2 separate regions of the Homo sapiens genome follow, and region 2 is linked to region 1. Evidence: fine-mapped expression QTL. A gene starts in region 1. The other region holds a variant in brackets. All regions are shown on one strand. Distances are between the middles of the regions.

The links. PIP is the estimated chance that this variant, and not a neighbour inherited with it, causes the effect. A credible set is the group of variants that fine-mapping cannot tell apart.
Region 2: its variant is the best candidate, but not a certain one, in a credible set for the expression of ZNF662 in whole blood (TOPMed, PIP 0.86).

Annotation. Positions count from the first base shown.
Region 1 is chr3:42,904,966-42,907,873 of GRCh38, forward strand. It overlaps ZNF662 (zinc finger protein 662), which reads left to right and starts at 1,177. Exons shown (of 5, transcript NM_207404.4): 1 at 1,177-1,203.
Region 2 is chr3:42,934,463-42,937,370 of GRCh38, forward strand. It overlaps KRABD1 (KRAB domain containing 1), which reads left to right and starts at 1,924. Exons shown (of 5, transcript NM_001205272.2): 1 at 1,924-1,993. It overlaps KRABD1-AS1 (KRABD1 antisense RNA 1), which reads right to left and starts at 2,323. Exons shown (of 2, transcript NR_122033.1): 1 at 1,295-2,323; 2 at 1-894. The variant T/C (reference allele first, on the strand shown) is at 1,482.

The DNA of each region.
Region 1 (2,908 bases):
AGGTAAGCCATTTTCTCTCTTTGGGCCTTACTTTCTTCAACTGAAAAACTGGTTCAACATTTATTCATTCTTTTATTCCGTAAGCCAAAAATAAAATTCAAAGCCCTCTGACCATATGAATGGATCTCTCCTCTTGGCTAAGGGCATTCCAAAGTTAACGTGAAAAACTGGTTCAGGCCATAATGGGAAGGAGGAGTTGGACATGGCTCATTATGCTCCCCTACCTTTTGAAATTCAGGACCAGCTGACCAGCATTAACATCAACACAGACCTTAAGACTGATAGAACAGCCTCTTTAAGTCTCACAGACTATCCGGTAGTGTGATAATGATGAGAAACATTTGCAGTCTATTCTCTGAAGCCTGCTACAGGCTCCATCTGCATGATAAAACTTTGGTCTCCACAAGCCCTTATCTTAACTGAGACATCCCTTTCTATTGATTCTAAGTCTTTATACAATAACTTAACTCTTTCAACCAATTGCCACTCAGAAAATCTTTGAATCCACCTATGTCCTGAAAGCCTCCTCTTCCAGTTGTCCCACCTTTCCATACCGAACCAACGTACATCTTACATGTATTAATTGATGTCTTATGTCTTCCTAAAATGTGTAAAACCAAGTTGTAGCCCGACCACGTTGGGCACATGTTCTCAGGATCTCCTGGGGCTGTGGCACGGGCCATGGTCACTCATATTTGGCTCAGGATAAATCCCTTCAAATATTTTACAGTTTGACTTTTCGTGGACAATTCTACAAATATTCCTTGGCAGTTAAAGAAATAACTCCCCAGGAGGTGCTAGACATCGGGCGCATGTTAGAGGCACAAAGATGAGAATGTTAAAAGACATAAAATACAGGTCTGCTCTGGGAATGCAAAAACTGGTAAAAGGAGAGATAAAAGAGCAGGTGCAGTCTAGTGAAGTACCCGCTACCTCCTATCAGCAAATATCTGTCCACCTAGGGTGCAGCGAGCTGGAGAGGAAGGGGTGGCCTAGAGCGCAGGGGAAGGATTCCTCCCCAGCCGCCTGCACCCCTACCCCGGTAGCGGTCCCTGGGATCGTCCGTGTCTCCAGGAGAACCGGACCGCTCTCCCCTCCCTCCCCGAGCGAGAAAGGAGGACCACAGAGATGCGGCGCCCTCCGCCGTCCTAGAGCAACCGGAGCGGCCCGAGCCCCGGCCTCCCGGATGCTGGGGCCTGGCGGGTGTGGAGCACGGGGAGTCGGGCGTGGGGCGGGCAGGGAGTGGAGTCGGGGTCTTACTCCGGTGGCTGCAGGGCGCAGGGTAGCCGTGTCAGGCCTGCCCAGGTGCAGAGCGCTCTTCCGCGACCCCAACAGCCTCTGGTCCGGTCTGGCGCGCCCTCGCTTTCCCAGAGGGCGACCTGGGCTATGGCGGCCGTGGCGCTGGCGAGCGGGACACGCCTCGGCCTTGTCCTCGAGCTGCTCCCGGGACAGCCCGCGCTGCCCCGGGCGCGCCGGGTGAGTGCGGGGCCGGAGCCTGGAAGCAGTCTTGGCCCTGCCCTGGGTTCTAGGCCCGGAGACGGGGTGGTGCGGCGGCTGGGAAATGGGGGTACAACCCAGAGTGAGGGGCCTCGAGGGACAGGCAGCACAGCGGAGTCGACACCCCTGGACCTGAGCCTCAAGGAGAGCAGACGTGCAGCGGCACGGGGTTGAGCCGACTGCTGGGGCAGAGCGCACAGAGTGCTGTCGGGGGCGATGAATGGCCAGAATTTCAGAGCTGCCTTTACAGAGCTGGTTATGTTTGAGCTGGGTATTAGGTTGAAAAGGAATTTGCAATGCAGGAGCAGGAAGGAAGAACTGGATATTCAGGCAAGAGTAGCCGCAGGTGCAAGGACACAGAACAGGGTGAGGAAAGAGTTTGGTTTCCCAATGCAATGGTGAGAGGATCGGAGATGAGAGTGGTGGTGGCTGATGATCCTGGCCAGGAAAGCTGGGTCTGTGAGTAGTGAATGGAATTGTCTGTAGTGCAGAGGAATGTGGACTCTATTAGGCAGACAAAGTTGAGCCAGCCAAAGCCTTGGAGCCCTGGAGTGCTGGATAAATAGCTGTGGAGACTTTCTAGTGCGCAAGGACTGAAGTGCAGTGGACCAGAATGGGCTCCTCCACAGTGTGGAGACTGAGACCCTGAAGGAGGCAGTGGCTGAGAATTACGGGAAGTCCCAACGGCTGGAGGTCAGCAGTATTTGTTTCTTAAGAGGATGAGAGAAAGAAGGTGCAGGAGCTGAGACTCCTAGAGATATAGAAAATGGGGACATGGAGATTGGGACGTGGGTAAGCAAGTGAGGTGGGATCTTTGTGAGAGTGTTGCGGGTGGTGGGGGTGCAGGGAGTAAAGTCACAACGAGGATCTGCCCTGTTGAGTACAGTGTTCAGAGCAACCTGAATGTTCTGAGGAGCCCTAGCTGCCTCTGTGGCTGGTGGCAGTGACTGGGGAGGACAAAGGAGGAAGAGTCCTATACAGGGGCAGCAGGGATGGCAGGAATGGGGACGGAAGGCAGTGTGGCATAACAGGCAAGAGCCAGAGTCAAACAGGCCTGGGTTCTGTCTCAGTTCTGGAACTTTGGGGGAAGTTAATCCCTCCGAGTCTCAGTTTCCTCTTCTAAAAAACGGATCTGATAGTAGGCTATGAGACATAACAAAGAATATATGTCAAGTGCTTGGCACAGGCTTAATAAATGATAGTTGTTATCAAGGGTGGGTGACCTCTGAAGGAGGACACATTGTGGAGAGAGGATGGGACCTAGAGCACAGATGTGGTTTGGGGTATAAGGATGAAACAAGAAAACTTTTGCAGACTCATGAAAAAGAGGAGAAAATGTTTGCTGAAATAAAGATGAAGAGACATGAGAAAATTGATGGCTGATGCCTTGTCTCTTTGTACATAGGAGGCA
Region 2 (2,908 bases), 29 kb after region 1:
GAGGGGTCTTTCTCCATGTTTTTATCCTTCTTTTAGCAGTAGATTGCTGTTCTTATTGACTCAGCATTTGATATTTTGGTGGTGGTAGAAGGGATGGCATTTTCTGTTGTGATTCAGCTTTAATCTTAGGTAGGCACTGTGTCTCTGAGACTTAAGGGTGGGGTCTATTAAGTGATGTTGCCCTATCCTCAGCTGTAGGACACCTCCATGGTCTGGAACCAGGATGCAATTCTACCGCTATTTCGTGAATGGAGAGCTTTTTGTTCTCTTTATTCCCTTCAGTTCCACTGGATCTTAACCAGTCCCTAAGGGTGACAAGATTTGCTTTTTCATCCTCAGAGGCTTAGGGCTTTTGTTCTGTAGGGGAAATAGGAGAGAAGGACCTGGATGGGGATTCATGTCTTTTCTAGCGGGAAGGTTTTCATAAGATTCTTCTTGCCTTACCTTCAATTGTATGTGTGTATGTGTGTGTGCACACATTTGATGATGTCCATAGAGAAGAATATACAAGTGGGTGGAAATTCTGCTTGTGTCTGTGGTTCACAGGAGTTCTGTAGTCTCTATATTCTCAGGCTAGCCAACACTTGGACCTCAGCAACTCATTAAACATTTTAGCTGATTTCTCCTTAACAGCTTACATGGCATCCAATGGCATCTGTCCTATGTAAACAAGTGCTTACAACCATCTCTTCTTGAAAGTGCCTGTCTTACATCAGATTTTAGATTAAGTCGTTTGCCCCCAGATCTTAGCTTTCTGATGTGTTCAAGAGAAAATTTTAGATTATCTGGCTGTTTTTTGTTGTTGTAAGGGTGAGGCCATGCACTTTTCAGTTTTCTACATCGTGAGAAGGTGAATTTCTTGATTTTTCAAAAAGAATCACACTTTTAAAAACCCTGAAAAATAAAGAAAAGAGACTGAGCTACCAGAACGGCAGTGACTTTGGGTGGCTCTCACTTATGCCAGGCACAGGGTGAATTCAGGGCTCTGGGCTATGAGGGGTCGACTGCAAACCCCTGCAGCAGATGTGAGCTGCATGTGTGGGCCCCTGTGTCAGCCTGTGCTCATTTGTCTTCCTACAGTGATACTGCATGTGATACACAACACCCAAGGACAATGGAGGTGGGGGCAAATGTCCCTTATTCTTCACACCCTTCGCTGTTGGCATCAAAGCAGTTACTCTACCTTCTCCACAGGCTTTGGCACAGCATGTCAGGAAGTTCTCTGGGGTGGCCACACCTATTTCCTCTAAGTGCTTTCAACAGGTTTTTCATCATGATAGGTATCCTTTCTTACCTCTGATTGATGTAGTCATGCTGTTTTCCTGGGACAGTGTTAAGCTCTGCTGGACAGGGGATGAATATTTCTTGGGTAAACTGACTGCTCTCACTTTGCCCATGGTCCATTGCTAATCCTCTCTGCTAGTGGTAATGTATGGAAGTGAGAGGCGTCAGCAACATTGAAAGACATCACATTCTAGGAG[T/C]GCAATCATTACAGCAATTCAAGAGAAGTCCTGGTTGTATAATGTGTGATTCGTTCATTATGCTATAACAATCCAAATGCTAAATTTAACAAGATCAATAAAACGTATAACCATTCACATTTTCTTGCATATTCTGGGTAAGACTTGTAGTTGCAGTTATTGTAGCACAGTAATAAAGGCACTGGAAGCCAGTATTCAAGGTTGGTACGATGATGCAGCGTCATGAGCAAGGTGCCTCAACTCAGAACTGGGCTCTGGAGGAACGCCAAGAGCCTATCTCGCCAGCGTGCCCTTTTCCTCACGGGAATTAGGAGGGAAGCACCAAGATGTGGGGTCCTCCACGAGTCCTAGAGAGAAATCCAGAGAGTGTATGGGTTCACCAGTCAGTGTGATGACGCACTTCCGGGGCCGCCTTCGTTTTTGTCGCGCGAGGTTTTGGTTTGTGAGGATCGGCGAGTGGCGCCCACCATCTCTGCTTGCTGAAAAGCTGCAGAGGCCGCCAGGAGCCCACGGTGAGCGGGTCTGAGGAGGACGGGAAACAGCCCCGAGGGAGGCGGGTGTGGCTACTGCTGGTACTGGGGTCCTCATGCCGATCCCCGAGCTTGGCTCTGTAGCGTCGAGATGCGGCGCTGGCAGAGGCCTGGAACGCTGGCCGCAGGCTCCCACCCCCCTCGTTTCCCTGTACCCAGGGCAGCCTGTGGCCCACTCAGAGTCGGATACTGACACACATTCGCATGTTAACTTCGAAGCCCACAAAAAGTTTTAACTGTCCACACTCCAGAATCTTCTATCAACAGAACATGCCCCTCGGTCGCTCCAGCCCCCTTGTCTTTGACCCGGATGCGGAAACCCCAACCCTACCCCTCAGCTTGTCAGTTTCCACGTTTTCAGTTGGTCCCTGAAAATCAGTTGGTGATCAGTTATTTTCGCCTGCCATAGTGTACACCAGTCTTGAAACTTGTTACTGTCGTAGAGCAACCAAAAATTTGAGAATACCGAATTGTATTCCCTACCCGTCCCCAGGATGTCCCATTTTGGAAAATATGGAGCCCTGCGATCTGGATTGGCTCATAAGAATGTTAAATCTAAAAAGACTGATCGTATCCGTCATGCACCTAATGTGTGTCCAGTGTTTAACATAGTTTCCTATGTACAGGATTGGAGATGTCGAAAGATTTCTTGACCTCTTAACATTGTTCATTATATTCTTTTCTTTAGATTCTCTGAACTTTTACTCCACTGTCATAATTTAATTGTCAAGGTTCATAGGATAACATTCGATGTCCCTGCCATTAGTCAACTATGTTGGGAGTGTGATTTGTTCTCCAATGTGGCTTGTTATTTATGTTTCATCTCCACTTAGCTTTCCCCATAGGAAGACACTTCCATAGGGAGTGTTTTGTGTTTTGTAGGGTGACCTCTGTTGT